Regions from separate parts of the Homo sapiens genome. Here regions 2 and 3 are each reported to be linked to region 1. Evidence: microRNA targets listed by miRTarBase, many of them from high-throughput screens and not tested one by one. Region 1 holds a microRNA gene; each other region holds the end of a gene's coding sequence.
Evidence for each region. Region 1 holds the annotated microRNA hsa-miR-4796-3p (UAAAGUGGCAGAGUAUAGACAC, at 1,625-1,646, opposite strand). A microRNA usually pairs through its seed, bases 2 to 8, with sites in the 3' UTR of a target mRNA and lowers its output. Matches are read on the target gene's strand: a 7mer-m8 pairs with bases 2 to 8, a 7mer-A1 pairs with bases 2 to 7 and ends in A, and an 8mer does both.

Region 2: miRTarBase lists KLHL36 as a target of hsa-miR-4796-3p. The part of its 3' UTR that is shown has no 7-base or 8-base seed match.
Region 3: the mRNA of SNAPIN is a reported target of hsa-miR-4796-3p. Seed matches in the 3' UTR shown: 7mer-m8 at 692-698.

The regions. Positions count from the first base shown.
Region 1 is chr3:114,741,828-114,746,165 of GRCh38, forward strand. It overlaps MIR4796 (microRNA 4796), which reads right to left and starts at 1,698; the gene lies at 1,618-1,698. The region is part of intron 5 of ZBTB20 (zinc finger and BTB domain containing 20); the gene reads right to left.
Region 2 is chr16:84,661,400-84,665,399 of GRCh38, reverse strand. It overlaps KLHL36 (kelch like family member 36), which reads right to left. Exons shown (of 5, transcript NM_024731.4): 5 at 1-3,822. The coding sequence ends at 3,267. Among named protein-coding and RNA genes, the nearest start is that of KLHL36, 15 kb to the right of the region's middle. RefSeq lists a silencer at 1,436-1,485 and an enhancer at 1,576-1,795.
Region 3 is chr1:153,661,063-153,665,365 of GRCh38, forward strand. It overlaps SNAPIN (SNAP associated protein), which reads left to right. Exons shown (of 4, transcript NM_012437.6): 4 at 138-790. The coding sequence ends at 239. It overlaps ILF2 (interleukin enhancer binding factor 2), which reads right to left. Exons shown (of 14, transcript NM_004515.4): 8 at 4,158-4,274; 9 at 3,334-3,412; 10 at 2,981-3,068; 11 at 2,153-2,214; 12 at 1,957-2,071; 13 at 1,643-1,733; 14 at 726-1,494. The coding sequence ends at 1,334. Among named protein-coding and RNA genes, the nearest start is that of SNAPIN, 4.5 kb to the left of the region's middle.

The DNA of each region.
Region 1 (4,338 bases):
CCAAGATTGCCCCACTGCACTCCAGCCTGGGTGACAGAGCAAGACTGTAAAAAAAAAAAAAAAGAAAAGAAAAAAAGACATACAGAAGGAAATCAGGGAAAATGGGAAAATGAAGGGAATTAACAAATTGCAATAATCTTTAAGAAGTAGAGTATGAACAATTTTCCTTTTCTAGGATGAAAGCTACCAACAACTGAACTCTTAGAGTGAGTGATGGCAGAAAAAAATAGCAATCAAGAATAGGGGCATGTTAGTTTTTAGACATGTTTACAAAACTCTGCCTTTTATTTCTTAAACCCATAGGTCAACCACCCATCATACCTACATTACCCCATATGACAAGTGGATTTGTTGTATGTTTCAAGTTTTTAATCTTGGTGGGAAGGGGGAGGGCAGAGAAGTATTTATTGGTAAAATATCATAATAAAGGTTGAGCCTGTCAATGATTGTACCTAACAATAATAAATATGTGTAGGAAGTAAGAACGGCAAAAATGAAGCCGGGTAGGATACTGTGGATATGGTGACAGACAAGTATCTATACGAAATCCTGAGATATTTGTCCTCCATTTCATAAATTAAAGTGCCCCCTCTTTTGCTTTACAGATAAGGAAACTGAGGTGCATTATAATAGCAACAGCAGCTGATGTGTAGTAGATCCATACCACAAGCCAGGTACGATGTCAAACATTTAAATGTATCATTTAATTTAATTTTCATAGATCTCCTACAAGACAAGTGCTATTATTTTCATTTTACATACGAGAAAACTAAAGCTGACAGAGATTAAATAACTTGTCCAAGGTTGCATAGTAACTAAGTGAAAGAGCCAAGATATGAACTCAGATCTGTCTGATTTCAAAACCCAGGCCCTTAAACACTAGGCCAGTGGTTTTTTAACCCTGATTGCACATTAGAAGCACCTGGCAAGCTTTTAAAACCTACTGATACTCAGACCCTACCCCAGAACAATTAAATCAGAATTTCTTGTACCTGGGCCCTGATGTGGGTGTTTGTTTCAAAGCCTTTCTGGGTGACTGTAACATATAGCTTGGGTAAAGAAGAATTGTTGGGTGTCTCCCATGGAGGTCAGTATATCTGTGCCAATATGTGAGGTAGTACAAGACTCAAGTGTCCTCAGTCTGTCTGCAGTGGTTTTTCCCTTGCCCCATCATGTTCACTTTGACATCTTTTTTTTATTATGATTTTTGGAGAAGTAATATACAAGTGACAATTTTTTTACAAAGCATTGTCACAGCAGAACATGGTCATAAGTCCATCAAAGAGAAACCTGTTCATATCTATGTACAGGCTATGATGAATGAATACAAAGAAGACTATGTTTATTACTCTCATCCCCAAAGGGAAGTATAAAGCTGGCCTTAAAAGCTGTTCATACCAAAGCTAATCACTAAAATTTGGAATGGCTTCCTCCTCTCCTTTCACAAATGCAATAGGGTAGCCACTGGATCTAAGGGGAAAAGATCCAATTACCACTCTTTACAATGCTTTTTCACTTAGGATCTCAAGACGACTGACAGTCATTCAAAACATAAAAGTAAAGTGAAAATATCTCTAGTAGAAGTGAAAAGAAAATGTCTGTAGTAGGAAGAAGGCCTAAATTTGTGTCTATACTCTGCCACTTTACTGCAATGACTTGAGGCCAAAAGTAAAGTGACAGAGTATAGACACAAATTTACTGCCATGACTTGAGCCTTGATTTCCTTTTCTATATGTACTTAAGCCATATCATCCTTAGGGCAGTGATCCAAAAAATGTGGTCCCCATCAGCATCATGTGGAAACATATCAGAAGTGAAATTATCAGTCCCTACCCTAGACTCTGAATCAGAAACTTGGTGAAGGGGCAGTAATCTGTGTCTTACCAAACATTGCAAATAATTCTGACCACCTCCAGCTGACTCTGATGTATCCACCTCCATGGGGTTGTTGTCTAAGAATAAAAGGAGATGGTCCATAAAATTGTTATTTTTTTTACTATCTACTGAAATCAGAAATTTCAAAATTCTCTCACAGAGATATTTTAGAGAAATAATGTTACAGCCTACATTAGTTAGATAATAACCTCATTTCTGAATTTCACTTTGAATGTGTAGACGAGGCACAAGTCAACCAGAGGTTATGCAATTAGCTTGGAGTCAAAGAGAAAGCAAGGAGTAGAGCTGAGAAGGAAACCCCAGTGTGAACTTGATTTTTATTCAATCAAACTGTTAAGGTACCAACCACGCACTTTCATCTATAATCACAATGAACCTTTTAATAAACATGTTTCTATCCTCTTAGCTTAAAAAATATAACAGTAGCTTTTTGGATTTTAAAACAGATTGACTTCTATACTTCTGGGCTAAAGGCAGCTCAAGAGTCAATAAGAATCACAAGCTTTCCACAGTGAGAAGAAAGTGCAATTGCCCAGTCCTCTCTATCTATGAAGTGCAGACAGTATTCCTCTTCCTCACCTCACACTTTCGATTATTGCAATGGTGGAAACCATGATAAATAAAAGCGCTTATCTAGTGGTTTGGTTTTCACTAAAATTACAGACTTCTGTAACATTATTTGGATACCATAAAACACAAACCAAATTTTAGGAGATGCTTTAGGGTGTTTTTTCCCCTGCCCTCCTGTCGGAAGCCCTCTATCTTTTTACTGTAATTTATCTGATATAGCTACCAAGATGCTTGATACTTTTACATGCAAGGGTGCTGAAAAACAAAGAGCGAGGGAATGGGTTGTTAATGAAATTCTCTGATTGTAAAAAGCACTCTGGAATGATCAGGTGGTAAATAATAATAAGAGGAAATAACATAAAGTGCTTAGGTGCTACAGCGATAGTCACCATATAAATGCAGAAGAGATCAGACATGAATAGAATTTGCATTTTATGCAGCTGCTGTGTGTGTATATAGAATATACAGTAGCTAATTTTTCAATAATGCTGGTAAAATATTGTTCAAAATCTATTCTTGCTGTCTTCTCACTTTAAAAGGCATTATATAGAAAAACACCCATCTGTCCTAGTGCAATGGTGAATGTGTGCAAAGAGCCTAGAAAAAGAGCCTCTTTGCATACGTGAAAAAAAAGAACTCAAATAAAAGGAGATAATGAAGAAGAGACAATAGTAACACTATTAGAACAGCTATGCAGACAAGCACAAAGGTGATCTTTGAAAAACATCAGGGATAAATAACTCTGTTAATGTGTGGCAGAGAAACTACAGTTAAGACATACAGTAATATACCAAAAATATAGACATGCTTTTATTTTGTCTACTGGGCTATTGTGATAGTGATGGTTGTTTTTGAATAGAAAGGAAGAAGAGAGTGGGAAGTAGGATTTCGTTGTTTGTTGTTACTGTTGCTGCTCAGTTTAGAACAACAACATCAACTACACACCAGACCCGTCCAACAGTTCCACAAACAATGCTTACCATGAATCTGCCCTCAATTTTCTTGTTGTTATTTTCCCTTAATACTTATTGATAACCCAATGCCCATTCATTAGATATGCTAAATCCTCGTCCATGGTTACTCTCCTTTGGAAGAGACTGAGAAGATGCTAAGAGGGAGTTCCTCTTACACATAAGGGAAGAGTCTGTTTAGGAATCTGAGAAAGCAGAGGCCAGGATAAAGAGACCACTAGTCAATCAATACTAAGCACCGAAGACTGAATCACCCAAAGATACAATTATCTCCCTTCCTTTGTTCTGTCTCTTAGTCAAATAAAGGATTGTTTGTAGAACCTTTTCTGTTCCTGATCTCTAAAAAGCAGGACTGGACTTGCACATCCAACTATAATTCAAAATATCTCACACTTCCAACTTGAAAGAAGACATAAACTGTTTCAAAGAAACTCAGAGAGAGCAAATGCATATTCACAAAACTTACACTTATTCCTAGAATAGGAAAATGGAGAGAGAACTAACCACATAAGAAAGGGCTAATCATAATAATAATAGTAATAATGATGATATCAATCAATACTTTGGATTCTAGAGAATGATTTATCACAAAAATTCACCTGTATTAAGGGAGACTCCAGGACAAGGAGGTCATTAAGCTACATTTCCATCTTCAGGATTCAGCCAAACTCAGACTCTCCGGAAAGCTGTAAATGCTCTCAGAACAGACTTTAGTAATGAGATTGGAATGAACACTGGGCCTATGGCGTAAAAGCATCTCCCTGCCCCTTGTTCTAAAAGTTAACTATTAAACCATGTGCGGTTCATCCTGATTTGGTTTACTCAATTCTAGAAACAAGGACATGCTGATCAGATTGCCCTGGGCAATTGAATACCTACTGAAGCCTTTGGGAAGACAGTG
Region 2 (4,000 bases), not on the chromosome of region 1:
CTTAAGCAAACAGCTTTCCAACTTGGGTGAGGACCAAACCCCAAACTTACAACTAATATGAAGTTACAACTCTAATTCTTTAGAAATGAGAGAAGTCCAAACCTCAATAGAAGCCTGCCATGCTTATTTTGAAATGTTAAAAAAAAAAAAAGATCCAGGTGTCTTCAAAATTCAAGCAGAATAGCTTGAAACACTGAAAGTTTAACATGATGACATGTGTGGCTGTTTCCCTCTCAAAATGGCAGCCTGCAAGCACCTGTGCCTTCATCACTCTAGTTTAAAACCCCACATTCGTGACTGTGCGGTTCAAATGGCCACTGCATAAGCACAGCCCAAACTCTGCCCATCTGAGTTAAAAAACATTTTATTCTTTTGAGACAGGGTCTCACTCCGTCACCCAGGTTAGAGTGCAGTGGTGTGGTCATAGCTCACTGCAGCCTCAACCTCCCAGGCTCAGGTGATTCTCCCACCTCAGCCTCCTAAGCAGCTGGGACTACTGCATGCCCCACCATCCCTGGCTAATCTTTTGTAATTTTTTTGTAGAGATGGGGTTTTGCCATGTTGCCCAGGCATGGTCTCTTCCATTTTCAGTTCCATTTTCATGCACAGTAGGGTGAATTTTCAACTTAAAAAGACAAGTAACAAAAACCTGGCCCGGGCACCACCACTGGGTGCCCTTGTGCCCATCCACTGACCCCAACAAGCTCAAAAACCTTTCTTGTCACAGTGTAGCCACCATCAAATATTAGAAGTTGACCCACAAGATGAAACTTGTTTATCCTCCCTTTAAAAGGGTGGTCCCAACCTTAGTAATATTAGGGTCAAAGCCATGTCAATTACAAACCACCTTCATAGTATCAGGAGAGACACCACAAAATATGAAGCGCAGGACGTCGTATGTAACTCATGAGGCACAAGAAAATCAGAATAGAGGCCAGAAGCTCACACATTTCCAGGGACAAGTCCCAGAAGCAAAACATAAAAGAGCTGGCTTAGGCTGAAAACCAATGGCTCTCCTCTCTCCAAGGTCAAAGCTATCCCACTCCCCAAATCACTCACAGAGTCTTTCTATGTGCTCTCCCCAACTTGCCCCGAGATTCAGGCCAAACAACTGCCCGTTTGTTCATGACCCAGGCTGAGATGGGGAGAACAGCCCACGTACACCCTACCCTGCCTTCTGAGGGGTCTACAAGCAATAAAACCTTTCCCGAATAGGAAGGGGGTAAGCTATCCCAAAGTTGGCAGAAGTTCTGCAAAACATGTTTTGTGGGGGTCTGGGACTAGGTATGAGACAAACGACTTTTAGGCTCAAAGAAGTTTGGAAATGCTGGGTTGAGACTTCTCGGAACCTTTCATACACCGGAATGCTGCAGAGCTCCAAGCAGAGTTTCCAGCCTTTTGGTCTGTTTGTTTGTATGCCTCGCAGAACCTCTCAACAGTTTGTAAGCCTCCAGGGACTTCACATGCAAATAACTAGCTAGCTGAACATGCAGACTGCCCTCCTCACTAACCACAGAGGGCAGTAAGTTGGCTATTGAAGCTTTCAGTCCCCAAAATGCTCTCATCTCTTCTGGATGGCTACATAAACAGACCAGTGAGAACCACAGTAAACCCTGAAGGGAAGGGAAAGGAGGGGCAGCAAAGAAGCAGAAGAAATGGAAATTAAAGTTAACTAAGATTTTTTTCCTAGTCTAATATCAATCTTAACACATTGATCCTCATCCACTCGAGCAGCTGAGAGCCCTCTTAAAGGGCAAGTGACATCGAGACCTGCTCTCGGAACTGTCTGCAGGAAGACTGGTGTTAGACTAGGATTGAAGATGAAGCACATCTTGAAGTTTACTGATCTCTGCCATCGGATGCTGGGTGAGGTACAGCTCATTCATGCCTTCCTTGGCTCATGCTTAAAACCCATCACACTCCTATCCTCCCATAGTTCTGCACGTTTCTCATCCACTCGGGCAGCTAAGAGCCCTCTTAAAGGGCAAGCGACCCTGACACCTGCTTTAGGAACTGTTTGCAGGAGTCAGTGCAGGCCAGCTCCACATCCTGAAGGGGATGCCATCCGGGTACGAACAGCTCAGAGGCTGAATGGCCCTATCACCCGGGAGGAGCCTGGAGGGTATTCCATCTAATCCTGTGGCTAAGCGGGGTGGATGAGGGAACACACGGACTTGTTCGAGAATTTGCCCAGCAGCACGAAACTACTTAGAAGCAGAAAACTGGGGCAGGACCTGGCGTGGGAGTTAGGGAGCCCTCCACTGCCTTCTCAGGGATCCACATGTGCTCCTCTGTGCAGGAACTTTCAACAGCGCCTCAAGATAGAGTCACAGAGAACGATGGCAAATTCCATAGCACTCACTTTTTCTTTCCTGAGAAATAAACAGATTTGGGAGCTCAGTACATCAGTAATATAAAAGACAGTGGGTTCAGAAAAAAAAAAAAGGAAAAAAATGCACAAATTACAAAAAAATATGTATAAAGAGCTTCATACCTTTTTTCGTTTTTGGTTACCTGTAACGTTTTAGAATTCAAGAAGGTTTCCAATGAGGAAAGACGGAATTATTCAGAAACAGCGTTCACCTGATACGGAGAACAGCTCCCCAGCGGGAAGTCATCATGTCTCATCTGACAGTCTAGCGAGCTGCGTGGCCCCTGGTCACTCACTCACTCACCCTCATGGGTGGTCTCTGTGCACTCATTTATAAAACAAACACACTGGACCTTGCCAGTGATTCCCAGATGTGACTAATACCCAGAATTCCAAGAACTAGTTAAAATACAGCTTCTGGGCACCACCTCCTCCCCGTTCCTGGTGGTTTTGGATTCCATAATTCTGAGCGGGGCTCACGCATCTGTATTCTTAAAAGTTCAGCCAGGTTTGGGGAGGCTTGGACTAGGTGGCCTAAGAGAACCCTTTGAGGCCCAAGCTTCACTACAGAAATTTCTGTGTTACCCACGTGCCAGCTACTCTCAGGGGGACAGTCAGCAAGGACCCATGAGGAATCATAACACGGGGCAAAGACCTGTGAAGATACAAGGGGTTGCTCACTGCCTGGGCCCAGGGTTAGTTATTCAAGCAAGATATGTAAAGTTACAGATAGTATTTAATTGGTTACTGTGATATCATAGAAATACCAAGAATCATAAAAGTAAAAAAAGCTGCTAAGTTGTACATAATGTTTCCGGAATACTAAGAAGTTGCTGCTGGTCTACAGAGCCCTGGGAGGTGACGGTGAGGATGGTCCCAAGAGGCGCAGCTAGGGTCACTGGCCCCGGTCCTGGTGCCTCTTGCCTTTGCCTTTCTTCTTCTTGTCCTCTGGCCGTGGCTCCAGGGCGCAGACACAGGCGGACCCGCCAGCGATGGCCTTGGGCAGGTCGACGCCCCTGCTCCACTTGTCGGCCTCGCGGTCGTACACCTGCACGGTCTTGGAGAAGGCAGTGTTCTCCCAGCTGTAGCCGCCCAGGATGTAGATGCGGCCCTCCCACACTGCCACGCCCGACTCGCTGTTGGCGTGCAGCAGCGGCGCCACGCGGGTCCACTGGTTGCACTGCGGGCTGTAGGCCTCCACGCCCAGCACGTCGAAGCGCTCCATGGACTCGATGTTGTCATCGCTGCCCCCGATGGAGTAGATGCTGTCACCCAGGCTGCACATGCTGTGCCAGCCGCGCGCCGTGGTCATGGGCCGCCGCTCCTCCCACACGTCTGTCCGGTGGTCGTAGCATAGCAGGTTCTTGCGGTAGGGGCCAATTTGGTAGTCGTGGCCCCCCGAGATGTACACGAAGTCTTTGTAGATGGTGCCCGCGTGGCCGTACGTGAACCTGCAGGGTCGACGGGCAGAGACAGAGGGAGAGCTCAGGGCTGTGCCAGGCTTACCCCCTCCGAGCCGGGGAACAGCCTGCCGTCTTAGAGGGCCATGAGGATTTAAGAATATAGGGAGTGGGCACCCCATGAACACTCTATAGACAGTAGCCGTCATTAGCAAAGAAATGGCAGGGC
Region 3 (4,303 bases), not on the chromosome of region 1:
CCCGGCCTACATTCTTATATATACTTTTGAAGACTGACTTTGAGGTAGATCACGCCCGGTATTTTTCAGCACCTAGTTCACTTACACTCTCAAGCCTTTCACAGTGGTTAAGATTCCAAACCTTCCTTGTCTTGTAGGAACGACTGAGACGGCTAAACCACAGTGTTGCCAAGGAAACAGCCCGCAGGAGAGCAATGCTGGATTCGGGAATTTACCCCCCTGGCTCCCCAGGCAAATAACAGATGAGCCTATGGACTCAGTAGCACAAGTACTGTTCCCCAGCTGCCTTGTTTCAACAGACATGCAAAGATCCTAGGAGACAGTCCCCATAGACCTTCAGACATTAAAAAGGGAGCCGTACAGTTTGTTTGAAGCACTTCGTCTTACCCATTTATGTAGGGGCCCCAGGAAACCTACACACAGCCAGAATGAGGTTCCCAAAGGACTTACATTAATTATGGCTCTTGCTTCCTTTCACAAATGAGCTGAGGCCTCTACTTTTTTTTTTAAGCTGCATACGTGAGGCTTACCTTCTTCAGGACTAGTTAACCAGAGGGGCTTCCTTTGTATGTTACATGCCTGGTTACATGGGCCTGGACAGCATGTCCTCTACCTGTGACTTCTCATTTTCCTGTTTACACTGGGGATTTGGAGGGGGCAGGCAAAGTCAAAGTGAATGACCTCTGTCCACCCACTTTTTTATTGCACTGGCTTGAATACAGTAGCAGTGTTGATAGAATCATTTTATTCAATAAATACTTAAAATGATATTCTAGTTTACTCTGGTATATGGAAAGGTTCCAGGAGTTTGTCCTTTAATTCAAAGACAGCTTCAAATTGTGATCTGAGTATTTATAATTAAATGACTCAATTATCATTTTCAACAAAAGAGTACACAAAGCCAAAAGCAAAAAAGGTTGCCACATGCAAAAAAACAAACAAACAAAAAACACCAACCAGAAAGACCAAGAGCCCTACTAGGAAGTACTTTAATAGTTTTTCTTAGAAAAAAAAATTTCCAGACACTTAACATTTCACAACATTTCAACAGCAAAGTATTAGTTGAGAGAGGGGTTTTCAGGAGTTGGAGATTATAGAATATTAGGAAGAAATGTTGGTATCCTCCATTATAGATGGATGGCATAGGTCACAAATGGGAGACTGGCAGCTAAGCCAATATCAAAACCCAGTGGAATGACACTTCTATGGAGTTTACTTTTCTTCCTGCTATCTTCCCTATCCCACGGAAATGTCTGTCACCATGTAAAGCCCAGTAGCAGGCAGCTTAGGCTCCAGTCTTCCCCCTTGGGTAGGAAAAGGAGTGAAGGGAATGTCACTCCTGAGTTTCCATGCTTTCTTCTTCCTCTCCTTGAGGTGGTTCTTCTGTATTCTCCTCTTCTTCCTCTCCTTCCTTCTTCTCTGGTGGCTTCTCATAAGCCTTTTCTGAAGGTGTTACTATCACTCCATCCCAGGTAGATATTTCAGAAGCAAGATCTAGGAAAGAGAAAAAGGTGATTTAGACGAGTAGCCCAGCATAAAAGTCATTACTTACACTGTGGAAATATTAAAGACATTTAAGTAGTGTACAGCTTCTCTGTACCAGATTACAATACAAAACCCCTGACCCACAGTGGTCACTCACAGCTGGCATCACCCTCCTGGCCAAGGATCTTCCTAAAGCCACCATGTGAGAGGATTCGGACGAGAGTCTGAGCTGTATAGCAGACCATGTCCTGAAGGAAAGCAAAGTGAGAGTAAGCAAGGAAAATCAAAGGACCTTATTTGAGTAATACCCTTCTGAAAACAGAGATTAAGACAGCTTTTTAAATCTCAGGACCAAAGTCTTTCAGAATCCCCAAATTCCTGACCCGTAAAGACCATATTCCGCTTTGCCTGCTGAGCAGCAGTATTCAAAAGAGTGGGGCAAAACAACTCAGTTCATATCTGTCCCAATACCTGCTGTTCTAGGGTCATGACTGTGTGTACTCTAAAGTTGCCACTCTCACAGGGGTCAGTGATACCCACTGAACCTGGCAGGAACAGTCCTGCAGCCAGAATCTGCAAGCAGCGCCTAGAACACAGGGAGGTATGAGGTATTAAAGGAATGCACAAAATAGTTTACAACCAACCCTAAACCCAAAGCATGCTGTACCTGTATGCAACGTTTAGGGCCAAAGGCTGTCTGGTGGGGTTGTTCATCACAGCATAATGGCCCTGAAAAATAATAAATCCAGTAGGTGTGCCATCAAAATGGCACTTCTGATAACTAGAACTTTATTTTTTAGAGACAGGGCCTCACTTTGTCATCCAGGCTGGAGTGCAGTGGCGCAATCATAGTTCACTGTAACCGCGAACTCCTGGGCTCAAGCAACCCTCCTGACTCAGCCTCCTGAGAAGCTAGGACTATAAGTTCAAGCCACTACAACTGGCTAATTTTTTTTTTTTTCTCTTGTAGAGACAGAGTCTCGCTATTTTGCCCAGGCTGGTCTCAAACTCCTGGCTTCAAGTGATCCTCTGGCCTCAGCCTCCCAAAGTGCTGGGATTACAGGCATCAAACTAAAACCTTAAATGATCACGAGGAAAACTGGTCATTAAGGTCTAAGTCTAGCCAAAATTTTCATGTTCAGAAGCAATTCTGAAATGGCTGCTCACTCATTTCTCTCTACTACCATGATTAAATGGTAGCAGTCATGAGAAGAAAACGGGACACTATAACTCAGTAACTACTCATTTCATTGAATATACAAAAAAAAAAAAAAACTTTGAATTTTTTCTTTTTTTTTAAACAAATGTCTCTGAGTCATGTAAATGTTGAATTTTTATTGGATTACTTGTCTACCAATAAAATTTCTTTTAAGCTTCACCAAATTTCAGACTCTGGTGAATTTCAGAGTTACTACTACTACTACTACTACTACTACTACTACTACTACTAGTAAATAAGGATGATGAGGAACTCCAATTGCCCATCTTTACTTACTAGTAGGTCAAGGATCCAGGGTGTGAGGGGCTCAAAGCCAGGAAAACGAATCCTCAAGTCCTTCAGTAGTCTGATGAGAACTTTAACTCTGAAAGTAATAGTGACCCAAACATTAAAATCAATACGATCATGTATTTCCATGCCTAAGGTAGAATTGAAGCTGACTATGCTATTTCCAGAACTATACATTCTCTGCTTTCTCTAAATCTTAATTTGCTTCCTTAAGGTAAAAATAAAAATCCAGACACGAGGTCACAGGCAAAATAGTTCTGTCAGAGGAAGTATGGGGGTATCCTGCTATTCACTGCAGTTAAAAAGTTTATCTTAATCCAAATGGTTAGAGAGGGACTCACGTGGACTGAGAAGCATTTTCCTCGAACCAGCGGGCATGTCGGATGGCTGCTAAGGCACTCTGCAATACTTTGATATCCACTAAAAAGACAAGCATGATATGCCAGGATGAAACATTTTCATTAAACAAGCTACTCATTACCACTGCTACAGTCTTAAAAACTTGGAAGGAGGGCAGGATAGACGGAGTCTCGCTCTGTTGTCCAGGCTGGATTGCGTACAGTGGCGTGATCTCAGCTCACTGCAACCTCCGCCTCCCGGGTTCGAGCAATTCTCCTGCCTCAGCCTCCTGAGTAGCTGGGATTACAGGTAACCGCCATCATGCCCCACTAATTTTTTATTTTAGTAGAGACGGGGTTTCATCATGTTGGCCAGGATGGTCTCCAACTCCTGACCTCAGGTGATCTGCCTGCCTCAGCCTCCCAAAGTGCTGGGATTACAGGCGTGAGCCACCGCACCCGACCAACTCTGCAATTCTTTAAGCCACCCTGTGTTTCTCATATCAGCAAATCACTTGTCTAAAAATCACTAGAAACATGCAAGATCTGTTTTCTTCAAAAGCCTATCCCCCTCCATAAATATTTTCTCAGTCCTTTTTAAGTCCTCCAAATGCTTTCTTGGTCACCCCATCTGAAAATTCCACTAGCAAGCTGATAAACTATTTCCAAATTACAGAGGGAGAGAGCAAAGTTCAGAATAAACCTAAGTTCTTCAATTCCCAGGAAGCTGCATGTGGAATAGCAACAAGCTAAGTAAACTAAACAGCAACAATACCATGTTTTGAATATCCCCTAAATTTTCCAGCAATGGAAAAAAAAGAACTAACAATGGAGTTCTGGATCCAGTTTTCGAAGATTGGGTGGCACTGTTGTAATGAGAATCTTCACTGTAGCATCAGAAGAACTGATTTCAAAGCCAGTTTCGTTGGTCAGCATGGTTAAAACTGAAAAAACAGAATAAACAAAAACTATA